Linked DNA regions of Homo sapiens. The protein of the gene in region 2 interacts with the protein of the main gene of each other region in a pairwise test. Each region holds a gene or a part of one and is shown on either strand. Other genes may lie near its edges. The genes, in order: PPP2R5A, TNNT2 and MLX.

Evidence for each region.
Region 1: the proteins of TNNT2 (region 2) and PPP2R5A interact in binary tests that used the Homo sapiens proteins (3 or more experiments, as listed by UniProt).
Region 3: the proteins of TNNT2 (region 2) and MLX interact in binary tests that used the Homo sapiens proteins (3 or more experiments, as listed by UniProt).

Annotation. Positions count from the first base shown.
Region 1 is NC_000001.11:212,342,516-212,352,472, reverse strand, and holds part of PPP2R5A (serine/threonine-protein phosphatase 2A 56 kDa regulatory subunit alpha isoform), read right to left. Parts: intron 6,671-9,957; coding exon 6,540-6,670; intron 5,127-6,539; coding exon 5,067-5,126; intron 4,085-5,066; coding exon 3,976-4,084; intron 3,285-3,975; coding exon 3,231-3,284; intron 1-3,230. UniProt on the Homo sapiens protein: The B regulatory subunit might modulate substrate selectivity and catalytic activity, and might also direct the localization of the catalytic enzyme to a particular subcellular compartment.
Region 2 is NC_000001.11:201,372,892-201,383,007, forward strand, and holds the start of TNNT2 (troponin T, cardiac muscle), read right to left. Parts: upstream 4,790-10,116; 5' UTR 4,732-4,789; intron 511-4,731; exon of another isoform or gene 378-510; 5' UTR 364-377; coding exon 323-363; exon of another isoform or gene 228-322; intron 1-227. Other genes in the region: LAD1 (ladinin-1), read right to left, coding at 8,997-9,002, 9,361-9,435, 9,762-9,848. UniProt on the Homo sapiens protein: Troponin T is the tropomyosin-binding subunit of troponin, the thin filament regulatory complex which confers calcium-sensitivity to striated muscle actomyosin ATPase activity.
Region 3 is NC_000017.11:42,562,826-42,573,056, reverse strand, and holds the start of MLX (max-like protein X), read right to left. Parts: upstream 5,958-10,231; 5' UTR 5,933-5,957; coding exon 5,891-5,932; coding exon of another isoform or gene 5,729-5,890; intron 5,439-5,728; coding exon 5,402-5,438; intron 4,588-5,401; coding exon 4,498-4,587; intron 4,221-4,497; coding exon 4,114-4,220; intron 3,854-4,113; coding exon 3,754-3,853; intron 3,551-3,753; coding exon 3,451-3,550; intron 3,076-3,450; coding exon 2,874-3,075; intron 1,511-2,873; coding exon 1,454-1,510; 3' UTR 90-1,453; coding exon of another isoform or gene 33-89; 3' UTR 1-32. Other genes in the region: PSMC3IP (homologous-pairing protein 2 homolog), read left to right, coding at 33-89; COASY (bifunctional coenzyme A synthase), read right to left, coding at 7,089-7,151, 7,252-7,398, 7,489-7,586, 7,746-7,830, 8,010-8,074, 8,159-8,348, 8,480-8,611, 8,882-9,096 and 1 more. UniProt on the Homo sapiens protein: Transcription regulator. Forms a sequence-specific DNA-binding protein complex with MAD1, MAD4, MNT, WBSCR14 and MLXIP which recognizes the core sequence 5'-CACGTG-3'. The TCFL4-MAD1, TCFL4-MAD4, TCFL4-WBSCR14 complexes are transcriptional repressors.

The DNA.
Region 1 (9,957 bases), about 11 Mb from region 2:
GTCTGAAAAAAAAAAAAACCCAAAACACAAACAAACAAACCCAAATGTAGTTCCTTACCCTCATCATACACAAATTTCAATGTCGGGCAGTATTGAATAACGAACACTGGGTTGACTAGTGGCCCCCAAAAAGATGTCAATGTGGGCCAGGTGCAGTGGCTTACAACTGTAATCCTAGCACTTTGGAAGGCCAAGGAAGGCACACTGCCTGATCTTAGGAGTTTGAGACCAGCCTGGGCAACATGATGAAACTCCATCTCTACTAAAAATACAAAAAAAAACCTAGCCGGGCGTGGTATCGGGCGCCTGTTATCTCAGCTACTCAGGAGGCTAAGGAACAAGAATTGCGTGAACCCAGGAGGTGGAGGTTGCAGTGAGCCGAGATGGTGCCACTGACTGCACTCCAGCCTGGGCAACAGAGTGAGTCTCTGTCTCAAAAAAATAAATAAAATATAAAATAAAATAAAAATAAAATAATAAAATAAAATATAAAATAAAATAAAAAAGAAAAATAAAAAAATTATTTTGGGGCTCAAGTTAGATTTTCTTGGAATAAGAACGGTGTTTTGTTTTGTTTTGCTTGTTTTATAAAAATGCAGCTTTGAGTGGAAGGAAAGGTTTACACTGCCAAAAAAATAAAAGTTTTGAAAGTCATGCCGACTCTTCATTTTTTTCCTCTTTACATGGAAACTTAGCTGTAATGAATATTTAGTTAATTCTTCCACTCTGCACTTTTTTCTTTTTAGACGGAGTCTCACTCTGTTGCCCAGGCTGGAGTGCAGTGCTGTGATCTCGGCTCACTGCAACCTCTGCCCTCCTGGGTTCAAGCCATTCTCCTGCCTCAAGCAATTCTGCCTCAGTCTCCCAAGTAGCTGGGATTACAGGTGCCCGCCATCACGCCCGGCTAATTTTTGTATTTTTAGTAGGGATGGGGTTTCATCATGTTGGCCAGGCTGGTCTTGAACTCCTGATCTCAGGTGATCTGCCTGCCTCAGCCTCCCAAAGTGCTGGGATTACAGGCTTGAGTAATAAACTAACAAAAGCTCTGAGCTACTTATAATTTGTAGAAAGCTTTGATAGGAATGCCTGCTTTCCAGAAAATTAGTATTAAGGCTTAAACCCAAGTAATATGGCCGTAATTTTGGTGCTGGAATGGCCTATGTTAGAAATTGCAAGATCTCTATATCGAGAGATCTTTATGAGTTGGAAAATATTTTCCTTTCTTAACCTGGGTATTTATCTTACTCTCTCTCCTCATCCTGCTCCTATTTTCATTAACCCAACTCAGCCAAACCAGATAAAAGCTGAATAACTGGCCATCATCCCTCTCCCTAATCGTCAAGGTTTTTTGTTTTTTTGTTTTTTTTTTTGTGTCATCTCGGCTCACTGTAACCTCCGCCTCCAGGGTTCAAGTGATTCTTGTGCCTCGGCCTCCCTAGTAGCTGAGATTACAGGCACACGCCACCATGCCCAGCTAATTTTTTTTTTTTTTTTTTAAGTAGAAATGGGGTTTCACCATGTTGATCAGGCTGATCTTGAACTCCTGACCTGAGGTGATCCGCCTGCCTCGGCCTCCCAAAGTGCTGGGATTACAGGCATGAACCACCATGCCCAGCCTCTATCTTCCATTCTTTAAAAATAAATCACCTGTCTTCCTTATCCACCCCAAATTAATTAAATAAAATTTTATTTGTATACTATTTACCAAGCATGAACCATGACTTTTCAATATGTGTTATTATGGGTTTTCTTTTTCTTAATTCTAATGGGAGTTATCATAGATTTGTATTAAGGTTTTACTTTTTTCTTTTTTTTTTTGAAGACAGAGTCTCACTCTGTTGCCCAGGCTGGAGTGCACTGGTATGAGCTCAGATCACTGCAACCTACGCCTCCTGGATTCAAGCAATTCTTGTGCCCTTGCCATCTGAGTAGCTGGGACCACAGGCCTGTGCCACCATGCCCAGCTAATTTTTGTATTTTAACTAGAGACAGGGTTTCACCATGTTGGCCAGGCTGGTCTCAAACTCCTGGCCTCAAGTTATCTGCCTGCCTCAGCCTCCCAAAGTGCTGGGATTACAGTTGTGAGCCACTGCACACCTGGGAATCAACTTCAGAGGTTTATGTGGTTTCATGTACAAATATATGGTTTCTAATTCTCCTGAATTGTCTTCAAAAACTGTTTACAGCTGTTTCTAGAAAAGACTGTAAATCTAAAAGTCAAAAAACTAATAAAAATTAAGGAGTGGAAAAATGTCTTTTGTTCCATTACACAAAGTTCAAGTGAAAGGGAGAATACTAAGTATATGATTTTTTCAAGCATCCCTACGGATAGCCTGAGAAGGTTCATAATATAGTAAAAATACATATATATTTTAGTTTTTCAAACCCTTTGCTATTTACTAAATATTTATTAGGTTGCTGCTAAAGTGATTGTGGTTTTTGCCATTAAAAGTAATGGCAAAAGCCGCAATCACTTTTGTACCAACCTAATACTAGGTAAATATTTAGACTGAACATGCCTAGAAAGCATTCTCTCAAAATACTTACTTCACCAAGGTTAAAATGTTTTCTATGCTTTTATACTTTTCTGTTTCACCCTACTTCATCTTTTGTTTTTCTTGAATCCTCAGTAAATTTTCATAACTAATTATGTTTTCACTCTCTCCTGAATTTTCATTCTAGAGGCAAATAACAGTAGAATTCAAAGCCTAAGTTGCCTTGCTGGTTCATAAACTACTTTTATTCCAAGATTACATCTTATATCTTAATCACCAAAAGCAAGGAAATGTTTTCTATCCCTATCAAGTGGTTTATTGTTAATGAGTGGCAAAAATTCTATTATTAAAAACAAAACAAAATTCAAGGGAGTAGTAGTTTTGGGACCCTCGAAGTATGCTTTAATTCCAAAAGGTGAATGAAGATTTAAAAGATTATTGGTGAAGACAGTATGCATATAAAATTTCACTGTGGTCATCTGATCCTATCATCGTACATCTTAACTACTACATATTAATAGTAGTCTATATTTCGGTTATTCAAGACATAACTCACGAGAACTCTCCCCTCCTAACCCCTTCTTTTAATGTAGATTAATCTCACATTTCTTCTTCTAAATGATTTTAGCTTAACGTACATTATTCTACTTAATAACTATAAAGGCTATAAAACGAAAGCTACAATGAAATGCTATTAATGCAGACCAAAAACATGAAAATAAATAGAACACTTACTGGCTCTGTTAGTGTTGTATCTTTCTCCAGGAACTGTACAACACAATATGCTAGCTAAAAGGTAAGGGACAGTTTATAAATATTAGTGAGATAACATTTAATAATGTAGGATTTTTATATTTAGCCAATATTTTTTAGACTACCTCATTTTGATAAATTATTCCAATATATAAAAATATACTCACAACTGTGAATGAAATTGTGAAATACCTCAATCGTGAAACTATACTCACAATTGTGTAACTTTTTAGCCTTGAAAGTAACTTCAAGTTTAAAAAACATTTTTAGTAGTAATTTCTGACTATAAAGTTAACTGAAATAAGACTAGAGCTAACAATTTAGTTTTTCAGCATGTTTCTACATGTACACCTATGCTGATATATTATTCTCTAAATATTAATAGAAGAGACCAAAATCTCTCTAACTAGGTCTAGGTTATTGCAGCTGGAAGAAACATTCTGTAGATATGTGGGATTTATTCAAAGTCACATAATTAGGTCAAGACCTGGACTATAATATGAGGAAAGTGTGTATCTTAAACTGTAAGTGTAGATATAGAAATTAAATAATTGGTCTTACTTAACAACTAAATACTTTAAAATAAGAAAAATTTGCTTTGGGTAATTTTGTAAGCAAATTGCTTAATTATACTTAAAACTGTCATCTCAGTATTTCTCAATTTCTCTGCCTTTATATTGGCCTTTGAAATAATATTCATTTCATCTGAAATGTTTCTGAAACTTACCTGAGCATGAAACAAAGCTAATCCTTTTGCAGTATGCATAGGAATAAGAACCTTCATTAGAAATTGTTTATGTTCTGCTTTCAGTGGCAATGCAAAGCCATTGATAATACTGGAGGGAAAAAAAGGCAGGGGAAGGGTTAAGTAGTTACTACTTTGTTTCTAAAAGCTGTCATATCCATGAGTACATAAGGAACAGTGCTATGCTTCAATCCTGGTGTTGTATGACTGCTCATCTTCAAACTACTTTAGGAAGACTATTACTATGAAGTCTGTTCCTCTAAGTCATTTGATGATTCCAAAAGAAAATTAGGACTGTCAATTAATTCCCAAGTAATTTCTATCTTCATTTTCTATCAAACCTGTCACTTTATGCATTGTTGCTTTTATTTTTGCCCCCAAAGCTCCAGGAGAGTCAGTACCACAATATTGTTAGAATGTTCAATATTTTTCTGAAGTAAATGGGTAATTTTTCTTACTTTGTTGGATAACGTGAAAGAAGTAGTTCTCTCCACAATCATTTTCTACTATTAATAAAGGAAACTAAAATCATTGTCTAAATAGTAACAGAAGGGTCTAAAATTCTCTTAATACTAATACGTAGTGAATAAGGAAGGCAAAGTGTTATGGCAAAAGGTAATAAGAATTCAGCTGAGGCTGGGCATGGTGGCTCACGCCTGTAATCCCAGCACTGTGGGAGGCCGAAGGGGGTGGATTGCCTGAGGTCAGGAGTTCAAGACCAGCCTGGCCAACACGGTGAAACCCCATCGCTACTAAAAATAAAAATTAAAAAATTCGTTGGGTGTGGTGGCAGGCACCTGTAATCCCAGCTACTCAGGAGGCTGAGGCTGGGGAATCTCTTGAACCCGGGAGGCAGAGGTTGCAGTGAGCCGAGAACGCGCCATTGCACTCCAGCCTGGGCAACAAGAGCGAAACTCCGTCTCAAAAAAAAAAAAAAGACTTCAGTTGAGAAACTATGTGTTCTACATTTAAACTCTAAAATATGACATAATTTCTCCAACCCCAGCTAAGATTTTAATACATAAAACATTCACTTACTTAATTCTTAAAAAGAACAAAAAAACCTGACCTACCTTCCTAATATTTCAAGAAGTTCAGCAACACCATTGAAATGTTCTGTTTCATATATAAACCTGAATTTAAAATAAAGACAAGATGTAATCAAAATCAAACTTCAGAAAACTAAGAGAAACAGGCAGGAGGGTGAAGAAATCAATCCAAAGGACAGCTATTAGAAACACACAAGCATGTTTTGGGTCTTATAAGCAGTTTTGCCCCAAACAGTTAATTCATATCAATCTTAAAAAAGAAGATGTTTCCTACTGAACTACATATGCCTTTGCCAAAACTCGCCATATGTGAAGATAACAGATTGTCATTTCACCTGGAATATTCAACTTAATAATTAATAAGAAAGATAAGTTTCCTCAAAGAAATACTTTTTAAAATAAGAAACCTCTAATTATAGGGAAATCCAAGAGAAAAAGACCCATATGTAATAAAGCCATTTTTAATCAGAATTTCTTTACACCTCTAACTATATAGGCTGCATAGCTTTCCAAGATTAGGGCTGCCTTTAAAGCAGGGAGACATAAATATAATAGGGCAGATATTTGAAATGGGCTTAGGAAGTGATGACAGAGAACTGGAGAAAGATATTCACTCTAGAGGAGGCAGATATTACTCATCTCTAATTGTTGCAATGTGGGAATAGTAACCAAATTTTGCCAGATCTTCAATTAATTAAACAAACCAAACCTTGAATGTGGGTGTTGTTATGAAATCTCCTGATCTGAAGCAACTACTTAACAGATTAATATTTATAAAGTACACTTGGCCCTGTATCCGCAGGTTTCATTATCTGTGCATTCAACCAACTACAGATCAAAAATATTTTTGAAAAATAAATACAAATTTAAAATATAGAATAACATCTATTTGCACAGCATTCACACTGTATTAAGTATTGTAAGTAATCTAGAAATAAAGTATACAGGAGGATGTGTGGACGTTATATGCAAATACTGTGCCATTTTATATAAGGGACTTTGGATTCTGCTATTAGCAGGGGCCCTGGAATCAATCCTCCCCAGATACTGAGGGATGACTACAAGCAAATGATAGGCCCCATATAAGAGGACTGCTTGAGTTCAGGAGTTCAAGACCAGCCTGGGCAACATACATAGTATGTTACATATATACTACGTTACATATATATGTTACACATATATACTATGTTACATATATATGTTACATATATATACTACGTACATACAGTACATAGACCTTGTCTCTACTAAAAGTCAAAAAAATTACCCAGGCGTGGTGGTGCACACCTGTAGTCTCACTACTTGGCAGGCTGAGAGAGGAAGATTGCTTGAGTCTGGGAGATGGGGGCTACAATGAGCTATGTTCTCACCACTGCACTCCAGCCTGGATGACAGAGTGAGACCCTGTCTCAAAAAAACAAATAAAAATAAAAGAACTTGAATACAAGAAGATATGTAGGAGGAAAAGGTGCAATATACAATAAATGATTAATTTACCTGAGGAAAATGTTGTTAATTTGTTTTCTGATGAATGCTCTTAATCCAAGAAATTTCCCATAAATTCGGTGCAGAACAGTCTTCAGGAAGTCACGTTCTCTGGGATCTTCACTATCAAAAAGCTCCAGGAGCTTTAAAAGAAACCTGAGAAATTACTTTTAAAAAATAATCGAGCTAAAGCTTTATTCTAATTTTGATCTTAAAGATTATCCATGACATCTTTTAAAAATTTTTTAGAGTTCTTCCTTACCACACTGACTTTATTCTTGCTAAGTAATGAAGGTGAGGAAAAGCTTAGGAAATATTTCTTCTCACTTATTTCACTTCAAAATATGACATTTACAATAAATATAAATATTTCAAAAAGTGGATTTTTCTTTACCTTCCCACTGATTTTAAAATTCAATCCTACTCTTGAATACTAAAGAGGCTCACAATTTTGGAGTGTTAAAATTTGGGATTTTTAATGCTTTTTGATCGTCAAAACTACATAGAAAATCGTTTAAGTTTTTAGATTGCAAGTCATCAAATAGTCTTAAAAAGATCCATGTGTAAATGTATATTTCTAGTTTACTAGAAAGATGTACATATACTAAGACTTCTTTTTGTGAATTTACAATAAATTCAAGACAGTTACCATGCAGACATTTGAAAAATTAACATTCAGTTATTAGAATAAAATATTGGCAGATACATACTAATAGAGTAGAAATCATATATAAAATAACACTGGACTAAAAGATGAGGCCAAATTTTTTTTTTTTTTTTTTTAAGACAGTCTTGCTCTGTAGCCTAGACTGGAGGGTAGTGATGCAATCACAACTCACTGCAGCCTCGACCTCCTGGGGTCAGAAGATCCTCCTGCCTCAGCCTCCCAACTAGCTGGGACTACAGGCACATGCCACCACACCCAGCTAATTTATATATTTTTTGGTAGAGACGGGGTTTCACCATGTTGCCCAGGCTGGTCTCAAACTCCTGAGTTCAAGCGATCCACCCTCCTCGGTGTCCCAAAGTGCCAGGATTATAGGCGTGAGCCACTATGCCCAGCCCATAGATTTTTCAGCTTAGCAAATAGCTGAAAAATTTTAAACCAGTTCCACAGTCAGCACTCTCCTATACCTCAATTGGCCCAATCAGTGTACTCCTATATTCTGCACAACTTTTCAGCAAAACCTGAGAGAAGAGACTTTAGAAAAAGTTAAAGTCAAAATCTCAAATTTCCATTTAAAATGGTAAAGAAACTTAATTTCTTCTGTCAAAAAAAACACTGTATTTTAAACATTGGATTTTCTTAGAAAAATATAAAATACTCTCTCTAGAGTACAAGTATCTGTAAAGCTGTCAAGGAATTTTATGTTCTGAACTTTCGTGTTTATAATTACAATAAAGATAGCAAGCTCTGAACCTCATCAGAAGTTCTTATTCCATTTTGTTTTGAATTATATACAATTGCTAACACATGCATCTGAAACCAGAGTGGATGACTTAAATCATATTTATATCTCCCAAAACAACTGCCATACTTATAGTTTCCATTCTTTGTTTGCTAGGCTGTTAAGGCCCTCATGAGACTCCAGCAAAAAATATCTACGGAGTATGAGAATTTTTGTTAATATATCTAATAAGTTCACATCAAATTATTCTAATTAAAAATGGCAGCCGGGCAAAGTGGCTCTCAACTGTAATCCCAGCACTTTGGGAGGCCAAGGCAGGCGGATCACTTGAGGTCAGGGATTTGATACCGGCCTGGCCAACACAGTAAAACCCTGTCTCTACTAAAAGTACAAACAAAAATTAGCCAGGCATGTCGGCACATTTGCAGTCCCAGCTACTTGGGAGGCTGATCCAGGAGAATCGCTTGAACCTGGGAGGCCGAGGTTGCAGTGAGCCAAGATCCAGCCACTGCACTCCAGCCTGGGCAACAAGAGCAAAACAGCCATATAAACTGCTAAAAGCAATTACTGGGCCCTAGCTTCTCAGATAATTCAAGCATTTAAAGTAGAAGGTAGAAAACAGATCCTGCCCCACCAGTTTTCTTTTTGCTCCCCTCACACCACAAAATAATACAGCAGCTTAAATACCTCAAGCTCTAGACTAACAAAGCACTAAGGCAATTGTTCCCCTCAACCTGTTACTGTATTAAATACAATTTCATATGGCATTACTAGAGCTCCCTAATGTATCCCACACAAGAGCTGCACAAGGAAATAAACAGGCATTCATTTGCAATTACCAAAATAACATAACTCCATTTAATGTAATTTTTAGTCATGATTAAAATGTATATGTTACTGTTAATACACACCTAATATTTCTTTATAGTTTATGAAGAGCTACTTCAATGGTTGAAGGAAATATTTTAGGCTGACAATGTTCTTCATTTATCAATCCTTCACAGCAACAGGTCAGAATACTTTATATGAGGTCAAGGGTAGTTATGAATGACCAAAGATCAGCTCTAAATATACCAAACTCACATTAGTAGAATTTTTATCATAGGGCACATACAAAGCGGTCTGAAGGGTAGGAAAGGTCCTTGCAATGATTTTAATCCTGGCCTCAGCATCAAATTCCTAAAGAGGCCTGCATACTCAGGCCTAGAAATGCCTAGAAAGGTTTGGTCTACTTCACAATTTTCTTTGGGGCCAGCCAATTCCATATAGTTAAAAAGGGGCCTTTGGCCAGTGCAGTGGCTCACACCTGTAATCCTAGCTCTTTAGGAGGCTGAGGTGGGAGGATCCCTTGAGGCCAGGAGTTCAAGACCAGCCTGGCCAATGTGGTGAAACCCCGTCTCTACTAGAAATAGAAAAAAAAAATCAGCCGGGCATGGTGGCGTGTGCCTGTAGTCCCAGCTACTTGGGAGGCTGAGGCAGGAGAATCGCTTGAACCCAGGAGGCGGAGGATGAAGTGAGCTGAGGTTGCACCACTGTGCTCCAGTCTGGGCAGCAGAACAAGACTCCCTCTCAAAAAAAAAAGAGGCCTTTAAATTTTTGAAAAGGTTTTGAAAATGAATATATTCTTAGAAATTGTGAATATGTAGGTTCCAAAAATAACAGCTAATAAGCAGTTTATAAAAAAAAAAGAAGGCATCACAATTAATTCTACCTCCTTACGTTCTTAATGATTCCACTTTATCTGTGGTTTAGGAATTGGGTGGTGGGGCTTAGGTGCAAAGAGGAAAGAAAAAGGAAAAGGTAATTGATACTTAGGAAAGGAGCCTAAAGCCCAAATTCCTCACAATGATTCTACTCCTTTTTTCCCCCGTCATTTCAAAGTCCCAATGCTTAAAATATATGTCAAGTTCAAAGACTTACAAATGTAAAACAAAGATTTGCCCATGGATTGAATGGTCATACCACATTTTCTCAGATACTGCAGAAAGGCTTGTTTTTCTGGTATTTATAAAATAACTATG
Region 2 (10,116 bases):
AACCTTCCTCAGTCAGTTTCAGGAGACCCAACATCTCAGCTTCTCTGTTCATGGCCCCTAGCCAAGACTGGCCAAGGACACTGATGACCCTGGAGCTGAACCTCTGTGCTTCCCGAAGTCTCTCGGCCTGTGCTCTGCCTGGGATCTACAACCCAGGGGTACAGGAGTGGAAAGGAAATGGCTATATCTCTCCTCGGGGTGCCCAAAACACACACAGCTACTTCTACCCAGAATCCGAGGGACAGCTGGGAGGCTCCTGGACCAGGTGTCAGGGCAGCGGCGGGAGAGGACCCCACTCAGGCAAGATGCTCCAGATACTCACTCCTCCTCGTACTCTTCCACCACCTCTTCTATGTCAGACATGGTCTCTGCTCTCCCTCCAAAAGGAGAAAAAAGTCAGTGCAGGTACAAAGGGAAGCCTGCCTTCCTCAGAAGAGCTCTGGCCCCCGTTGTACAGAGATCAGCGAGGCCTAGGGTGAATCTAGTTCCACCCCTCATGAGCTGTGTGACCTGCAACAAAAAGCCTGTTTTCTCCCCTGCTGGGGGAGATAGTGACACCCACATGGCAGCAAGGCCACCTGCTGATGTCCACTTCGTTCCTTGCCCCTGAACAGGCAATACTGCCTGGGATGCTGCATTTCCATTTGTGACACTCAAGACAATGTCTGCAGTTTCTCAACCTTTCCATCCACTCTGCCCACCCCCACTCCACAGGATCTGTTCAGCACTGTACAAATCTTCACTGCACAAAGCCTCACTGCAGCCTCAACCTTCTGGGCTCAAGCGATTCTCCCACCTCAGCCTCCTGAGTTGCTGGGACTATAGTTGTGCACCACCATGCCCGACTAATTTTTGTATTTTTAGTAAAGCTGGGATTTTGCCACATTGCCCAGGCTGTTTCGAACTCCCAGGCTCAAGGGATCCTCCTGCCTCAGCCTCTCGAAGTGCTGAGATTACAGGCGTGAGCCACCACACCCATTCCATGTGTGCTGGACAAAAGTGAGACCTGGACAAAAGGTCTTTGGGCACCCCAAGAGACTGGCCTGGACAAATGAGTGAGAACTTGTCTCTAAATAAATAAATCAAAGCACACAGCGGGGATCCTTGTGGTTTGGGATCTTTTCAGTATGTAGACTGTGGTGATGGATACGTGAACCTCCACAGGTTAAAGTTGTTTAGAGTTTCACATACACATGGTGCAATTGTGGGCAAATCTGAATAAGATCATAGATTGATTGTATTGATGTCCAATCTTGGTTTTGATATAGTACTAATTTTGCAAATGTTGCCCTCGGGAGAAACTAGGCACCGTGTGTAAACGCTCGTTATTAAAGACAACTGTGTACTAGTCTTTAATTATGTCAATGAAAATTCCGATTAAAAAATGTTCCCCCAGGGAACTCATTCTGAGATCATCTTCTCACTGCACTGGGAACAGATAATCTAGATTCAGATCCTCTTCCATTAGCTTGCCGAGGGTGTTTAGGCGAGTCTTTTTAACATCTCCAAACCTCAGTCCTTTCTCTGTCTCATGGAGATAAAGTGTACACATCCTGGCTACTCAGGGTCTTTACGAGGCTCCAGTTGACATTAACAAAAGGGGAAGGCATTAGGCAACATCAGGTGTTACAATGAGCATGTAATCACAGGGAGGGGGCAGAGAGCAAGCACTTGAGTGTGAGACTAATCTCGTTTTGAATGCTGGCTCCAGCATGCGTTTGCCTGCGACCTTGGCAAGGTCACTTAACCTCCCCACATCTCAGCTCTCTTTGCTGTGAAATTACTGCTCTTCTTGGGTAGGTGTGAGGAACAGAGGTAGTGTGAAGTGTAGGCATTCAGCTAATAACTACTATGACCCAACCCTCCGGGGCCATGACAGTGCACTGCTCCAGGGACACAATCACGTTGTTTGAAACGTGAACAGCAGCCTCTGTTATAGTGCAATATGCCAGCTCCACAGCCTTCCTGATGTTGGCTTCCAAGGGAGAGAATGGACAGGGTGATGTGAGAGTGAGGCTAAAGTGAGGCGGGAGAAGAATCCAAATGATGCTCAGGACCACCCTCCAATGCTCCTCCCCTGCTGCCCACCTCCTGCCCCACTCACGCGTGCCAGTGCTGCAGCACCAATTTCAGACCCAAGCCTCAGGATGAGGACAGAGGCACATAGACAGTCCTGCTCACTCCCTCATCACCTCTCCCTGCACATCCCCCCCATAGTGGCTGAGACCAATCCCAGGCACTCATCTGTGGACATCCAGCAAGAGCCAGGGCTCTGGTTGGGTGGGGTGATGTCCAGAGGCTGAGCCATTCCAAGGGAGCTGCCACTGCCCAGCTGCCCCTCCAGGTGGAGGCTTCCCCAGACTCAGCACCCACTGCAGCCCTGGATTGATTGTCTTCAGACCCTGTTCCCATTATGTCCAGTTCTGCTGGGTTAGAAACAAGCATGGCTGCAGCAGAGTGGTCCTTCCGCTGCTCCCTCTGCTGGAGCAGGGTGAGGACAGTGAGGGAGGAGCCTTGTTTACAAGGAGCTCTGAACCGCAGCTCTGAGCCACTTTTTTGCCCCAACCCCCAGGGTGGGGTGAGTGGGTGAGAAGAAGAGACATCAAATGTGCGAGGTGCTATAATGCGGGATCAAGCCTCATTCTGCTGAAAAAAAGACTCAAACCCCAGAGGTTCTCCAAATAGGTCTTAGGATGAGAGTGGCCAAAGAGAATAGCCTTCCTAACCCTAGGATGGGTGGGGCTGACAATTGTTACCCAAAGCCCCAGGGGAGCGGCCAGAACTAGTGACTTGAGAACTTGAGGAGCTCCTACCTGAGCCCCAGGAGAAGCTTGTCCCTCAGTGGGAGGGAGAAAATTCTCAGAGGAACCGTGCATGGCCAGCCTGGGCGCATAGCTTCTAGCTTTCTCTCTCCTCTCCTACTCTGCCCTTCCACCAGTTCAGAGCCACTGGGCATGGTGCTGGGGCCTCACAGGAGGACAGAGCAGCTTGGACTCCTCTCCCTGTTCCTGGGGGCACCATCCAGCTCCCAAAAATAGCATGCAGACATGCAGGATGGAGGAGGGCTTTCAGCCAGCCCAGAGGACACCACCATGCCAGTGGCTCAAAGGCAGGACCTGATGCAGGGGAAAGAGGTGGGCTGAGACTGGGGGCTGCAGAATGGGAGAGAGTCAAGAACCTGGCAGGGCAAGGAACCAGAATGTCCTGAAACACCTGTGTCCTCACACCCAAGTCCCACCCACTTCCACAGGCAGCTTTCTAGCCTAATGCATTCATAGCCAACACGTGTTGGAAGCCTAACACGTTCACAGGGTCACCTTTCTTGGGGAGTAAAGCAAAGACAATAGAAGGCATAAGGCATACTGACCTTGGGGTCAAAAAATCTGGGCTTAAAACCCAGATTTTGCTGTGTGGCCTTATTTAAGTCACCTAGCCTCTCTGACTTCAGTTAACCAACTACAAAGCAGGAGAGCCTTGAGTTCTGTCCCTGTAGAAACAGTCTCCGAGTTTCTGAGAAACACAGGCCCCACCCCTCAGTCCTTGTCCCCAGCACTCGAATGGGATTTTCCTAAGCCAACAGCTGTTAGCCCACCAGGAGAGCGGGGGTAAGGGGATGGGGAGAGGGCAGGAAGAGTGGAAGTGGGGGTCAGAAATAGGAGGCAGCCAGCAACCTGATCCTCTCAGATTCCACTTTTGCAGAGAGAAGGAAGATTCGCCCTCTAAGACATGGGTCAGAAAAGGAATTTGGGAGGGCAGGTAGCTTCCCGGCTACAGCAGGCCAGGAATGTGCTCTGAAATTCCTTACACACCAGGCAACCCCCTCCCTGAATAGTCCTCAGCCTGCCCAGGAGAAACTAGAAACCAAGGGAATCTTTCTCTACCACTCCTGGGCACAGAGCAAGGCTTGTCCCAAGATGGGGTGTTGGGGTGGGATGGGACAAGGGTTACACTTACGGGGGCCCAGGTTAAACCCTTTAATGCCAACCAGCTGGGCTCACACCCAAGGACAGGTTCTCCCAGTGGGGCCTTTCCCCATCTGCCCCCCAAGTGCAGCTCAGCTCAGGGTCTGGGAGCTCAGCTCAGCTCTGGGAGGGAATGGCACTGAGTCAGCGGCATCAAATGGAATTCCCGCGTTGGCCTGGAGAGGCGCTGCAGAGGACCCTGCACATCTGGTCGTTCTCAGTACTTCCAGGACAGTTTCTGAGTTCCTAGCCTTGAGAATATGACCAGGAGACTCACTTGACTGACAGGGCTGCAGTCTCGCTCTGCTCCCTGGGACTCAAGAAGGACCTGACTGGAAAGGTATAGGTGACCCTCGGCCTGGAACAAGCAATTTAGGGGAGTCTCTGTTGGTTAGAGCCTCATTGTATTTAGAGCAGGCAGAGGCCTAGCAAATATTTAGCCCACTCTACAGATGAGAAAACTGAGGCCTGGGGAGGGAAAGTGACTCATCCAAGAGTTTAAACTCTACATCTTTAGTGGCAGGTCCAGGACTCCAACCCTAGTCTCCAATGGCTACCATGGGATTCTCTCTTTCTCTCTGCTCTATTGTACCAATCTTGGAGCCCAGACCTGGCAACCTGTCCTCTGAAGTGTGGCCTCCACCAGGAGGGGCCATGGACTTCTGCGGACACAGGCAGACTCTGGGTAAATATGCCAGGGCCCAAGACCCTCACATCTCCCCGTCCATTCTCTGCTCTCCTCTTCCCCAGAGCCCTGCCCGAGCCTTACCTCAGAACAGCAGCTGCCGACAGATCCTGGAGGCGTCTGCTCAGTCTCAGCGGGGACTGGGTGAGGCAGAGGATGGAGAGGGCTTTAAGCAGGCATGTGGGCTGGGGCCTGGTGAGCCAGCCCTGCGGAGGGAGGAATGTGCGACAGGGGACGGGTGGGGCAGGGGGATGGCGGTGGGGGTGGGGGGTGTTGGCTGCTATTTTGGCAGGTGCCAGGGACAAGGCTACAGGAACATGTACCCCACGCCATATAAGCCCATGTGGTCCTCCAGCTGCTCAGATAAGCTATTTAAAACCAGAGCAGATATGCAGGGAACAGTCATGCAACATAAACCAGCTGTCCCTCTTGAGAATCCTGATAAAGCAGAGGCCAGCAACCCAGGCCTGGGAGGGCCAGCTGGGAGCAGGGTTGGGGGGCAGAAGGCAACCTCCAAGACACTCCATAAGTCTCAGCACCAGAATCTTGGAAGGCAGAGGGCAAGAGTTATGTGCTGCTCCACTTGAACTGATGCTGGGGGTAAAGACATCTTCCAGGCTACTGGCTCCTAATGGACTGAGCAGCCTTAGGCAGGTTGCCGGCTCTGCCAGCCCCAGTGAGGACATCTGCAAGGTGGGTCTTCTCCATGACCCCCAAAGCCATGTGGCACACCCTCCTCACAGGGAATGGACTGAAACTGCTACAGGAGGCCAGATACAAGGTAGAACTTCCAGTCAAGAACCTTGAACAGGCGCTCGTTGTGTGAGAGGGGTGATGCGGACTGTCAAAGGTCATCCCCTAACGGCTTTAAAATCAAGCAGTGCGGGGCTATGATCTGCTAAACCTACTAGATTGCAGATGCATAGGTCAGGCCTAGGGGTCTTGCTTGCTTGCCTGTGTCTGACCATGCACATGCACTTGTATGTTCAAGGCTGGCCCATTGCAGGGTTTGGTAGATTATGAAAATGAAAGAGACAGGAGGAAAGCAAGCCAGTAAGCAGCTGAGCTGACTCTCCCCTCCATCTCTTTCTCCGAATCTTCACAGCCTAGGTCCTGCTTGGCTCTGAAGCAGGAATGGTCCTCCTCTGGAGCAGGCCCTCCCCTCCTCCATGACCCCCCCTGGCACTTAAAGATCTTGCCCATTCATGATCCACACTCCTCTGTTTCTCCGTGGGCAAAGAAAGCAATCTCGCTATTCTCTGCCCCCTTCTCCCATCACCCAATCATGTGTCCCGCCTTCCCAGTCCTCAAACTCTTCTCTCAATCCCTCTGCCTTGGGAGCTACTATGCTGCCTCCACCACTAATGTCCTTGAAAGGGTCCTCTGCGCAGGGGACTGCCATTTGCTCCACACCCATGCTGCTGTCAGACTCTTGTCCCATCACTCAGCTGACTCCATCCCCTCCATAGTTCCCTGTGGCCTCTGAGTCCAGTGGCCTTGATTGCCCTGCCACGTGGGCCTCCACACTGCCAGCACATCTGTGGCAGGGCAAGCTGAAGCCAACCGCCCGCTGGCCAGCATTGTGGGACTGAGGACCACCACAGGGAAGCAGGGGCACTTTGTAGAGAGACAGGCAGATGGAGGGGACAGATTCCCGAGGGATAGTGAGGAAGGAGTCAGGCTGTCAAGAAAGTGGGGGGAGCCCCATCATCTCTCTCTCCCATTCTAGCCCACGAAGCAGGGCCCAGCCTTGCCTTGGGTCCTGGCCTGGAGTAACGTAGAATTCGGAATTACTTTTCCCAAACCCTTTTTTAACTTGAGGGTGGGTTACTGTTCCTTGTAAGCCCAATAACCTTTCAAACAGACCACGGTTTATTTGCATGGATGCCTAGAAGAGGGATCTGGGCACCTAGGTCACTACTGAGCCCCATGGGAAAAGCCCAGTAGATCCTTGGTGTCACAGGCCACACGTGTATGGCTTCGAATTGTTCTAAGGCAGGAGCTTCGTTCAGAGCGCTGTGAGACAGCCTCTCAGATAAGGAAATCCAGCCCCCATGCAGCAGCCACTCCTGGGCATAGTAGGGTTACTCTTAGCCCATTTTTTTTTTATATCCCTGTCCTTTCAAAGGGATGTAAAGAGAAAACAAAGCCAGAGTGGAATGGGAGGCTTATGCTGAAACAGTGCATGTAAATTTGAGGATCCACAATAGGACGGGCCACTTGTGGGGCACAGGGCCCCTGTGGCAAGACAGCAGGAGGGTGCAGCCCGGAGTGGTGTGTGGGAGCCCTGTTCTGTCTCCAGAAGGTGCCCAATGTCACCCATCCAGAGGCCTCCCCACCCGCCTGGACACCCAGTCGCTACCACTCATCTATCCCCAGCTGAGGTCATCTTGGGCACACCCTGGTCTCCTTGTTTACTGGCTGCGTCCCCAGTAGGAACGAGGGCAGGGCCCTCACGTGCTGGATTCACAGGGGAGGGGGCTGTGCTGTAGCACCCCGACATTTCCCCTAGCAGTCAGCCCTCACTGGGCACCCCAGGGGAGGGGGGTGCAGGCATGAAGGGCCCTGCTGAGGCTGCAGCTGCAGGAACAGGCCCCTCAGTGTCTTCCTAGGCTCTTACTCCACGGTCAGGCCCTGCCAGGTGAAGGCCTCCAGGAGCCTCTCCTCTGTGTGGGGACAGTTTTGTTTACTGGAAAAGTTCACCTATCATGGCATGAACATATGAAAGTTCTCTGAGGTCATCTGCTTGAAGTTCAGAGAAGGAAAATGGCTCAGGGTCACACCTGAGGTCTGGGCAGAGCCAGAGCTGTTTAGATGTCCCGAGGCTTAGGCAGGACTCAATCCGTTCCTCGGCCCTGCCCCAGCCTTGTCCTCCAACTCTCGGCTATGAAGTTGGAACACTCACAAAGCCCCAGCACTAGCAGTGGGTGGGAGGTGCTCGGGGCAGGGACCCCAGGTCCCGATATCCCTCACTCAGGCACAGGAGACTCACTGACCAGAGGTGGGTCAGCCTGGGGCACTGGGACCTGAGCACGGATGGCACTTTGAGGGCCTGTCCCCTGGGGCACAGATCTGAGGAGCCCTCACCCAGAGTCACAGAGTAGGGCTAGGGCTCATCCCCCACACACTTGGGGAACTGGACTGGTGATACCCCCTTAGGAGCCGTGTTAAGGGTCGTGTTCCAAAAAGACCTGGAGCTTCCCCAGGCATGCAAAGGGGGAATGGGCAGGGGGCTCTGCACCTGGCCACATCCCCAGCTGATTCTGGGTAAAACTAGGGCAGTCAATCAAGATGGAGAGTTCTAATGATTTAAATTTTTGAAAAGTTGTAAACCACAGCTTTAAGGGGTTAACAGGGCACCAGGCTGATGTTCCTAGCTTGGTTGGTTCTAGATTCTCTGATGGTTCACCATGCTCCAAGCTCATAGGAGCCATGAGGTCCAGAGCATGGGGGTGGGGGTTGGAGGGGGCTTGTGGGGAAGGAGGGTAGGCCTGGCCCTGTATGTGGCAGTTCCCAGTCACCAAGCTAGGACTGCTGAGTGGCAAGCCACCACCTTAATGTGAGAAGAGGGGGGATGAGGAAAATGATGATCCTCCTCACACACTTCAGGTGACCTCTGCTAGAAAGCAAGGCCTCCAGAGAGGAATTCGCTTCTAAGGTCTCATCAGTCTCTTACACCTGAGAGTAAATGAGTTTATCAGATCCTTCCTGAGAACAGGTTTTTCAGAGAAAGGGTAAGTGGTTGCACACAAAAAGGCACTTAGCTCCTGGCCATGGCAGCCGGCCAGGGAAGGGAGGGGAGAACCAAGCAGGGAGACGGGGCACAGGGAAGACGCACGGCAGCTCCTTCTCCCCTGGCCAGAGCGGGCCTCAGTGGCTGGGAGCAGGCCCCAGGGACAAAGATGGGTGGGTCCAGGCCTCAGAGAAGGGGGACATCATAGACAAAGAGGCACTTGCTGGGAGCCGATGAGACAGGTGACTCTGGAGTTCTTGAGGGGCGCCGTGCCCTGACTGTGGATGTGAGCAGGAAGGAGCAGAGGTCTCTGGGCAGGACATAGGCCCCATAGTGCTGATGTGCACTTGTGCTGTGACCTGGGCAGAGACTGGGTCCCAGCATCTGTTGTGCCTGCCGCAGGGTGAGAAAGTCCCAGCCCCAAGAGGCTGGGCTGGGAAGGAGCTGGCTGAGTCTTGCAAATATTCCTGACCCCAGGGACCCTGGCCAAACAGATCCACAGGCAAAAAGGGAACAGGGACAATGAGAGGAAAGGGTGCTGCTGTGAGAGGCAGGGGCCTGGCATGAGGGAGGTCCCTTGAGACGAAGACTTGCAGGTCTGTCTTGGCGGGGCTTGTCACACCTGTGGGGCAAAGAGCTGTTAGCACAAGTCAATGGGGTGTCAGGGATGGAAGGGGAAGGGGGCCACTGGATAGGAAGGCATCCCTTTGCCCAAGCCCCACACCCACAAGGAGTCAGAGCCCTGTAATCTGCCAGCTGAAGAGGGAGGGGCTCTGCAGAGCTGCAGGCAGCACAACCAGGTGAGGGCTCAACCTTGTTCTCACGGTTGGCTCAGACCAATCTGCATGAGCAGGGATGGGGGCGTTCTGGGTGGACTGCGCGATTGCAGGCCAATTAGTGTGTGCACACGGGGACGATGGGGTCTCCCACAGTACACCGTGGCCCTCCGCCGTAGGGCCAGGCTCCTCCCCACCATTCACCTCAGCGTCCAGCGAGGAGTCAGATTTCTGTCCCCACTGAGTCCTCTCGGTTGCAGATGATGCTTTCTGTGCCTCCTGATTGAGGGTATCAGGGTGGAGACCAGAGACTAAGACCAGGCTCCAAAGGGCTCGGGATACCCCAGGCCCAGCTCCCAGCCCAGGATGTCCTTTCTCTTCCCAAAAGAGAAAAGGAACCCAGACCCACCCCTCCTCTCTGCCAGAGTCTGACCCACACACCCATCTATTCCCGACTGCCTCCACTCCTGAAATGACTCCTCCTCTCCCGAAATGACTCCTCCTCTCCCGAAATGACTCCTCCTCTCCCGACTGTCCCTCCTCTGTCCCCAGTCATCCCACCACAAAGGCTCCACAGTAAGAGACATCAGGGAGGGTGAGGATACCTGGGGGTCCTGATCTCCAGATTCCTGGGTCCTGCTGATCCACAGGTTGAGCCTTGATGTCACAACCCCTGAGAGCCTCAAGTTCTCCTAAAAAGAGAACTTTCCATCTCAGGGTTTAGGGCCCTTGGCAGCAGCGAGGCATGTTCAGAGGCCCTGGAATGGGATAGGACTCTCCCTCACTCCCCTATGCATCCAGCACATGCCACATATACCTGGGACAGCCCCCTCCCCTTCCCCCAGGGAGCTGTGTGCCCAGCTAAGGAGATGGGCTCAGGAACGTGAATGGGAACTCAAATGGAGGTTCTGCCAACATTAATTGACACATGAAAACAGTTTTCTAGCATTGCCACAGCCA
Region 3 (10,231 bases), on a different chromosome or scaffold from region 2:
ACATCTCATTCACTTGTCTCCCTGTCTCACAGGAGGAAGTTGGGATAGAGACGGATGAAGATTACAACGTCACACTCCCAGACCCCTGAGGGGCCCACGGTCAGGACTGGTGGGGACTGCAGGATGTCAGAAGAGTGAGATGTCTTGCACTGGCTACCTTGTTTTTGGTTGGCTTTTGTTGTTGTTCCTGCTACTTTCACCTTTAAGCAGAGCAGTCAGGAGACAAGCATAAACCAGAGCACTGGGTAGAGAGGATGAGGGCTGGTGGCTGGGGGTAGACCCAGCCCATTTCATTGTCTAAATTGCAGTAGCTTGAGGTTAACATTTAGACTTGGAACAATGCTAAAGGAAAGCATTTGGCAATATTTATTATAATTTAATTTTATATAAAAATATTTAATTTCCTCTGGATAGTCAAACCTGCCAGATATCAAACCTGAGGAAGGCAGAAGTGAATTTGGAGAACTAGGGTAGAGAGAGGTTGCTATAAAACGAGCATTTGGAGGGCCCACGGCTTCACTCAGGACCTGCTGGGCTTGTGTACCCCAGGAGCCCTTTTAAGTATCTTTTGTACGCTTTTCACCCCACCCCCAAGTCCTGGGAGAAATGCAGGCAACACTGAGACATGGGAGAGGCCAAGATATGCTTGACAGAAAGGGTGATTTTGAGGCTCAGTTAATATTTCAAAATTGTAACCGTAGCAAAACTGCATTGGTATTTAGAAAAATAAAAAATTTCCAATATGTAGTGCTGTGTTATACCTGCCTCTGCCATGCAGCATCATAGCCTGTGGGAACCGGGAGGGCTTCCCTTACCACCCAGAGCAGAGGAGGAAGGTGATGGAATATGGGGTGAGGGGAGGAACCTGGTGGCCCCTCCCTGAGATGGCCAGAAAGCCCTTGGCCTCACCTGGGACTGACCAGGCAGCCCTAGTCTAGGCACAAGGTGCCCTTTCACCCTTCATGGCTGTGGGAATATTTCCTCTTACTCTTTTTCTCCCATACAGCTACTGCCAAAATGCCCAAACTTGGGCCAAATGTTGCCCAAACTTGGGCCAAAAATGTTGCCCAAGAGACCAAAACAGAGGAAAACAGTTTCCAAATCTATGTAGATCATGAGCAGAAATCTGAGGCTTGAATAAAGGGCTGAGAGGGCAGGAGCTCTTTGGGGTGTCCAGAGCAGACGCCCATCCCAAGGACTTCCATGGAGTGGGGGGAAGGCTGGGTAGGTTTGAGTTTTATCGTCAATATAATAAATTAATCAGAAGCTTTCACAAAACAAACACCGCGGCTCCGCTGAAGATAAAATGGGGCTGGGAAAAACCAAACACCAAGTAGAAACCAGCTGACCAGTGTGAGGTGTTGTAGTCCAGTCTCCCGGGCCCAGCAGTTCAGTGGCCACGTAGAGATTCAAGGGCCTCTTGTTGGCTGTTCTCCAGGTTTCCAAGAACCGGTCAGTAAAGCTGGTTTTTCAATTGGTGCAGGACGCCAATCACAATCTCCCGCAGGGTCTGGCGAGGGCAGCAGAGGAAGAAATAGACAATGCCCAAGTCAACGCAGAGTAGTTTCCAAGATGCCTGCCTAGATCAGCCATGTACTTTAGAAAAGTGCTTTAAAAATAGCCCCCCGGGGGCCAGGTGTGGTGGCTCACGCCTATAATCCCAGCACTTCGGGAGGCCAAGGCGGGTGGATCACCTGAATTTCAAGACCAGCCTGGCCAACATAGTGAAACCCCGTCTCTACTAAAAATACAAAAATTAGGTGTGGTGGCACATGCCTGTAATCCCAGCTACACAGGAGGCTGAGGTATGAGAATCGCCTGAACCCAGGAGGTGGAAGTTGCAGTGAGCTGACATCACACCACTGCACTCCAGCCTTGGTGACAGAGTGAGACTCCGTCTCAAAAAAAAAAAAAAAAAGCCCCCAGGAAGTACTGATGTCTGCAGTTTAATTTGAGGTGCTCCTGAAGCAAGATGGAGAGATGGAAATATAGTAAAATGTTTCGGTAAAATTTAGGGAGCGGGTATACGAGTGTTCACTGTGAACTCCTCTCAACATCGCAATATGTTTAATGTGTTTCACAATAAAAATGTTGGGAAACGAGGCCAGGCACAGTGGCTCATGCCTGTAATCCCAGCACTTTGGGAGGCCGAGGCGGGTGGATCACAAGGTCAGGAGATCGAGACCATCCTGGCTAACACGGTGAAACCCCGTCTTACTAAAAAATACAAAAAATTGGCCAGGTATGGTGGCACACGCCTGTAGTCCCAGCTACTCGGGAGGCTGAGGCAGGAGAATGGCGTGAACCCGGGAGGCGGAGGTTGCAGTGAGCCGAGATTGTGCCACTGCACTCCAGCCTGGGCGACAGAACGAGACTCCCGTCTCAAAAAAAAAAATGTTGAGAAACAAACAAGAAATCTCAGACACAAGTTTAAAACCTCAGAAAAAGCAACCAGACTTCAATTAGAAGACTTAGTGCAATACCATTAGCACATCTCCATTATAAATAAATTTTTAAAAAGCTCTTGGGGCAACTACTTTAGGGGGCCTAAAGGTAGGGTCCCAGAATTTGCGTTTCCAATTCTGCTGCAGATGCCTGGGGCTTCCATACAGGGGCAGCGATAACATGGGCTAGACAAAAGCCAAGAGCTGGACTTCACATTGAGCTCACGTCACACTTGCCGAATGAAACCGTAACATGAAGATGTGGGTTAGACAGCAAAGAAAAGGGAAAATACCAGGGCCCTCAAAGCTGTAGAAACGCCCTTAAGATCTAAAAGCAGCTGCCACGCTTTTCTCAACAGCTGATGGCTTGGGCCACTTTGCTTGATGGTAGAGAAAACCGCAGACCCTGTGCCTATTGTTGCCCCATACCTGAGGCTTACAGTGCTCCTCGATCCAGCTGAAGACACACGCTGACAGCTCCTGGAAGCTGGCCACTGAGATGGAGGCATTGAAGGACTGGAACAGGGAATCCATGATGCCTTGAAACACGTTGAACTTGACCTGGTCAGAGACCTGGTCCTCCCCTTCATGGGGGTTGTCCTGGTGTGCCTTCACAATCTGCTCATAGTTCCTAAAAGCATGCAGGCCAGGGCTGAGGTGCTGCAGCAGCTCCGCCCACCCAAGAAGAATGACGGGACTATCCTGTGTACTCCCAGGAATGGCAGCCCCAGAGAGCTTCTGGGTGGGGTTCAGTATCAGGGAGATACTGCTTCCAGGTCAGGAAAGGTGGCCCTCTCTCTCCAACCTTCCTTACATTAATCCAACAGGCATTTCCTGAGTGTCTGCCATGTGTAAGGACAGTTGGGGATACACAGTCCTACTGGCTAGCTCAGGAACTAAGAGTATTATCTGTACAGCAGTAACTGATGTGGCCTTTGAACAAGGGAGGGTGTGCAATGAAGTTGCCTCAGAAGTTCTGGTTCCCCCCATTCAGCACCCCTCTTACACTTTCATGATCTTTAGGGCGGTGACATCCTTGCGTAACGTGGACACCTCCTCCTCCTGCTTTTTCTTCTCCTTGTGCAAAAACTGAATGTAGTCAATGGCTAGGGTGGGGGCAAGAAAAAAAGGACAGGTACAGAAGTATTCTCAACCAAGAAGATAAGGCTGACTTTGTTCCCCTTACCCCAGACCCCAACTATCCCATGGCAATCACCACACCAAGGCCGAGCCATGGGTGGGTAGGAGGCACTGGCCTCTTCACAGCCCCGCTTGGCTCCATCCCCTCCAGTGCTTTCCCTAGCCATACTCTTTTGTAGAACGATGGCTTTGCTGAGCTTTTGGGAGCCAATGGAGAAGTCCTGCTGCTGGCAAGTGGGGACGATGGTCTGAAGGTCATCATAGCCTCTCTGTGGAAACAGCAGGGGAAATGGGTTCTTTAACCCTGAGAGATTAAAGCAAAATGGCACAAAGTTCCTCCATGACACCAAGTTCTATGCTCACAAACTCAATGGGGTGGGAAGGCTGCAAGGGAGGTGTTTGTGCCTGGGACTATACTACCTGCCCACCCCCTAGGGTGCCTGGGACTGTCTGAGTGGGTCAGGGCACAGGGAAGCTAAACTATGCAGGGCCCTCCCGCACTGGCTGAGGCACAGGCCTCCCTGTTCACCTTGATGGCGTCCCTCCTCTTCTGCTCAGCCTGAGTGTGTGCGCGCCGCCGCCGGTCTTTGTAGGACTCCTTGTAGGCCTCCTGGTGGTAATCACTGTCCTCATCATCTACGCTCAGAGATGGGGGCAGGGAAAGGTCATCTTGGGGCCCAGTGGGGTCCAGCTAGCCCACCTTTCCCCAGCTGGGAAGAACCTGGTGTCCAGAGAAGGCAGATGGACAGAACCACCTAATGTTCCAGATGAGGTGAAAGATGGTGAGACCTTGTGTCTGATACTTTGGCTCCAGCACCCCTGTGTGGATGGCTGGGGCTTCCCTGTCTAGGAAAGGTACTACAATTATGACATATCTGAGCCCCCCGAGGTCGGGGGGGATGTTACTGCCTACCTGTGTTGGGGACAGAAGAGGCACTGGTGGAACCGATGCTATTAGCTCTGGACACTACACTCCCCTTGCGGGTGCTTTCTACAAAAAGCCCTGGAAAAGAGAGGCCCCAATCACTAAGGGGTGGGGTGGGGAACATTGCCAGACCCTCAGACACCTGTAGGACACAATGGCTTTCTTTTATTTATTTATTTTTTTTTTAGACAGAGTCTCGCTCAGTCGCCCAGGCTAGAGTGCAGTGGCGCGATCTCGGCTCACTGCAAGCTCCGCCTCCCAGGTTCACGCCATTCTCCTGCCTCAGCCTCCCGAGTAGCTGGGACTACAGGCGCCCGCCACCACGCCCGGCTAATTTTTTTGTATTTTTTAGTGGAGACGGGGTTTCACCGTGTTAGCCAGGATGGTCTCGGTCTCCTGACCTCGTGATCCGCCTGCCTCGGCCTCCCAAAGTGCTGGGATTACAGGGGTGAGCCACCGCGCCCGGCCACACAATGGCTTTCTTAAATGCTGACCTCTTCCCTTCAACCCAAAGCCAACCATACTGGGCCCCCCACTTCCTGCCAGACCACGCTGCAGTGCTCTGCTCCCTAGTGTCTACACTGCTCCATAGGCCTGCATGATACCCCCCTGGCTCACAAACGGGCATGTGGACGTGATGAGGGTGTGAGTGATCAGCTGCTCCACTGAGTGGTGAGTGATCAGTTCCACCACTTCCCTGTTCCAGAGCAGAGGGAACTAGGTGTCACCCTCAGTTGTTTTCTGCCCTTGTCCTTCAGCTCCTGCTGTCTCAAGCCAGGAACTCTGCTCAGGGAGAGTGGACTGTGCTCAGGCGTGGTTGGCAACGCCACAAGAATCTAGAGAGCCTGGGCGGGAGTGTCCCTCTAGAGCTTAAGATGGGGCAGCTACTCACCGGGGTCCAGGCTGTTGTCGCTGTAGGCATACTCCACCTGCGGCACAGAGCACGGGAAGGGCCCGTCAGACCTCCGCCCCTAGGGGGAGGCGCCCCTTCCACTGCAGGCACGCACAGCGCGCCCCCCATTCCGGGAAGGCGCCTCTGTCACCCTGCGCGCTTGCACACACACAGCCCGGGGTGCGCGGGCAGCTTAATGAGTCCCCCGAGACTGGCACAGGCTAGGGCGTGCGAGTGCCTCCCCTGTGTATGATCCCTTCCGCCCCTACTCCACCCCAGTGCCCCGTTCCCCCGACTCGCGCGCACACGCCTCGTTTGTCTCCCCACCTTGGCACACGCGGGGTGAGAGCTGTCTTCTCTGCAGCCCCGGGGCACGGAGAGCGTGGGGGACTTTGGGGACAGGAGGGAAGCCCCTCGTCTTCCGGCCCCCCTACGTGCACGAGCCCGACCCGCCCTCCCCTCGCCGGCGTGCGCGCCCACGGGGCTTGCCTTGACCCAAGGGTCCTCGGGAGAGGCGCCCGGCTCCGTCATCTTGTACCCACCGGACCGGAAACGGGCCAGCGGGCGGGCCCCCTGCGGCGAGGAAGCGGGTGGCGTGCCCACGTGACCCGCGCCCGCCAATCCGCGACCGAGAGGTGGGGCAGGGCGAAGCATCGCGCATGCGCAGCCCAAAGACTTTACTCCACGGTTCCAGCCGTCAAGGCCCGGCGCTTGGCCTGGCGCCAGCCTCCTTCGAGACTGCTCCCCGCCGTGCCTGCCCTCCCCGGGTTAGGCAGTGGAATGGCGGCGACATGAAGCGCGTTTTGTAAGATGGAGTCCCCTCAATTGGCTTGTCAGCACACCGCCGCAGATAGTGTGTGCACGCGCACTGTCCGGCCGGCCGGCTCCCCACGTTACCCTGAGGGCGGCCTCCCCGCGCTCACCGGACCTGCACTGCTGGCCGGTGTGTCAGGAACCGGGCAGAGAAGCCCCCAGCCACATCGTCCGACCCCACCAGGCTGCAAGCTCTGTGAGGGCAGAGGCCCCGCCTGGCGCGCGGAAGGCTGATCTTCCAACACCCAGCCCAGTGTCTGGCAGGATGCATGTGGAATGAACCCTTGCAAAGAACCTGCTAGCTAGGTTATGCGGCCTCTCATATTAAAAACAAAACAAAAACAATAAAACACGGCAGTACCTAGAAAGTCTACACCTTACTCAGAAGAACACAGCTGGTCAGTGGGAGGGCCAAAGCTCGCCTCTGGCTAGCCTCAAAGGCCATTCTCTTAACCACTGCATTGCCCAGGCTTCCAGCTCAGGCCTGGGCCCTGCACTTGTGGCTTAAGGATCCCAAAGATACTTAGGGGCATTGGAACAGGAAGCAGACACCATACAAGCAACATCTCAGAACATTCACCTTTAATTCTGTTACAGGTTCCAGTATTTGCGCTGGCCCTAGTCAGCTGTGGGTAAGAGTCACCCATGGGCAAGAGTGGGGAGGGGACTGCTCCCCCATGAACCACATCCTCAGTGTTGGCCAAATACCAGCGTGTTGGGTAGGCTTCCTGTGTCCACCAGGCCTGGCCATGTCCTGCACAGTATAGCTTGGACCTCTGGGCCTGAACCAGGGTGAGCATCAAGGCCCCCATTTCTCCTCACCACGGGGTCGCTTGTCAGCTCCAGGAGCCAGTCTGGCCCCACTGAGAACTTTTCAGTCGAGGGCCTGATGAGTCTTGGGAATGCGCTTCTGCAAGAGGGCCCAGGCTTTCTCCACCTTCAGACAGGCCAGGATGTTGGGAGGAAGAGAGGGCAGGGTCAGGCAGTACCCACTGGAGACTCCTTCCCCACAACCCGGCCTTGCCCTGGGCACCAACCTGGCGTTGGGTGATATGCGGCTCCCACAAGGTGCTGAGCACCACGTGGCTCTGTTCCACAAGCTGCTGCCCGCTCATCTGGCTCTGCAGCCGGCTTTGAGCCGCGGCTTCACTGAGGCCATCCCTCTCCACAATGCGTCTTACAGCCTGAGCACAGACGAGACATTTGTCAGGAAGAATTCCAGCTCACAGGATAGGATCTGCAGTAGGGATGGTGTGGGGGGTGGGGCGAGATACCTCAGTCTCTGGGATGACAGCAGTCCACACCTCATGGACCAGGTTCTGCCAGCCGGCTTCAAGCAACACAGCGGCATCAATCACACACACACGCTTTCCTGTGGGGAGACCCCAGTCACCGCCAGCAGTGCCGACGTTCTCCCAGGCAGAACACAGTCCCAGGGTGAACAGACAGTCCCACGTTGGGCAGGGAAGCTCCCAGGGGAAGAAACAGCTTAACTGTCCCCTTAGCTGTTGCCATCCTCCCTCCCACTCACCCTCAGCCACAGCCCGATCCATCTCCTCTCGGGCCAGCTTTGCGATAATTGGCCACATAATGTCCGTGAGTATCTTCAGCTGCTTCTGGGGAGGGGAACAGAGGGCAGAGGTTACCTTCTCTAGAAGAGGCAGCCAGCCCGAGCAAGGTGGTGTTGGGAACAGATCAATGGAAATGGCATTCTGGGCCAGACCAGAGAGGTCCACTGGACCCTGACCCCTGGGTCTAGTAGCGGCTTAGGAGCCCTTAGGAAGTTATTGTTTACCTTATTCCCAAACACCCGGCTGCCTAGGACCTTCCTGTTGATGATGCCATCTTTATGGAGAATATCTGGACAACACAGACAGACAACTGAGCACAGAGGCCTGGCTAGCTCCTCACTCCAGGCCACTTTCAGCCTTCCCCAGTTATTACCTGTTCCAAAGGCCTCCACCACAGGCTGGTAGGCAGGGCCACCTGGGGCATAGGCCCGATGACCCAGGTGGTCACTGTCAATGACAAACGCCCCCAGGCCCTTCAGTCGCTGAGCTATTGAGCTCTTCCCAGAGCCACTGATGCCAGTCAGCCCAATTACATAGAGACATGTGGGGAGCTCTGGCCTTTCCTGGGGATAGGTGAAAGGGAACCCACAGTTACTGGGGCCCTCAGCCTCATGCCTGGGGCTGAGCCCCTCAGCTTCTACTCTCCAGCATTGCCAGGACACCAAGCAGGAGGGAAGGAGGGAGAGGAGCTTACATATGGAGGCCGAAGCAGGTTCCCCAACATTCGCTGGCGGAAGCTGGAGGAGCTGACTTTGTCCTCTTCATTCTCTGTATGTCTGAGGTCCTTCAGCAGCTGGATCTGGTACAAAGCAAGTTCCTCCAGGTCCTGGGGTAAAGAGGAAAGGGTAAAAAGAGGGAAGGAGGGAGTGAGAGGAAGACCCTGACATCCAACCTGCCCCCCCATCCTCCCCTTCCTACCCAGGCTCCTCCTCCTCCGACTCAGCGGGCAAACTGAGAACCAGTTCCTCCTTGCTTCTTCCCACCACCCTGAGCCCCCACTTCTCTCCTCTGGGGCCATGGTACTTCCAACAGCCCCCTCAAAATGGCCTTCCCCGTCCCCCATCCACTCCCTCTGCCAGTCTCCCTCAGGGGTTACATTCTCAAGGCGGAAGCGGTTGATGGCCATCCCCCCACGATAGGTCTCCTCGCTGACCACCAGGAACTCCAGGGAGGGGTCAGAGCCAGCGGGCCCATAGGGGTCCAGCAGGGGGATGACATCAAAAGTCAAGGAGGGCTTGATGTCCACCAGGAATTCACTCAGATGTTCCACACGTTCTGTATAAGGTTGGAGCAGCTCAGGGAGCAACTTGCCTGGGGAAGGAGCCCAGAAGAACAGTGAGATCTTTTTATTGGGGAGGAGAGTATGGGCCAGTTTGGGAAAAAGTGTCCCTAAGTACAGTATCCCCAGAGGGGGTGGCAGAAAGGGTTCAACTGGTAAGGCCTATGGTGATGGTGAGGGGAGCATGAAGGTGAAGAAACAGGCAAGCACAATAGTCACTCCAAGGGCTGGCATGTGTCCAGAGAATAAGCCACCAGGAAACCACTCCAGAGAACGAGCAGTGCCAGAGGGCATCAGAGGCAGATGGAAAATTCCAAGACCCATGCCATGCTTGAGTTTCCTCCTCCTGTCTGTGGCACTGCTACCTGCAGCTCACTCACCCATTCATTCCCAGTGTCTCATTAGGGTGTATCACCTGGAAAACTTGCTAAAATGCAGATCCCTTTGCTTCACATTTGGGGTATTCTGATTGAGTGGTGACTGGACCACATGCTGAGAAAGCTGTTCATTTGACAAAATGGCCTTAGCACCAATTGAGTGTCAACCACTGTGACATTTGGGAAGGGTGGGAAGTAATGAATGGCCCTACCCTTCCTTGATCTCGGCATAAGGGTCGGGGGTGGGGAGATTTGGGGATCCTCCACCCTAGTCCAGGGTCCCTCTTACTCACTCTTCAACAGATCTTTGTCTGCTACTCCCACCACAAGCTGCTCCTGGGCCAGGATGCACGCGACACTGAGCAACACCTTGTGGGCGTTGTGCAGGCGGTCAAACGTGCCACCGACAGCGCCACGGTAGTAGCCACGCACCGGCTGCTTTGGAGACCCGGCCACGGGGGAAGCTGGCCTGATCGTGGAGGGTAAGGGGACATCCAGGGGCTCCACGGGCACTTCTCCTATCCCATAATCGGAGTATAGCAGCACCGAGGCCAGTCGCGGACAACAGCTGTAACAGCTGGTGGCGTAACGCACTAGCTGCTGTTTGACCGGGTTGTACTGGCTTCCATCCAGGGTCTGGAAATCTGTCAACACGACTTCTGGCGGGTGGGCGAGATTCTGGACTGAGGTGGGCAGGGGAGGGAGAAAGGTGCTCTTGGTTCGGATATTGGTCAGTAGGATTCTGACGTCCAAGTGCCTGTGGACGTCGGCGCCAGCATAGAGGTGCGTG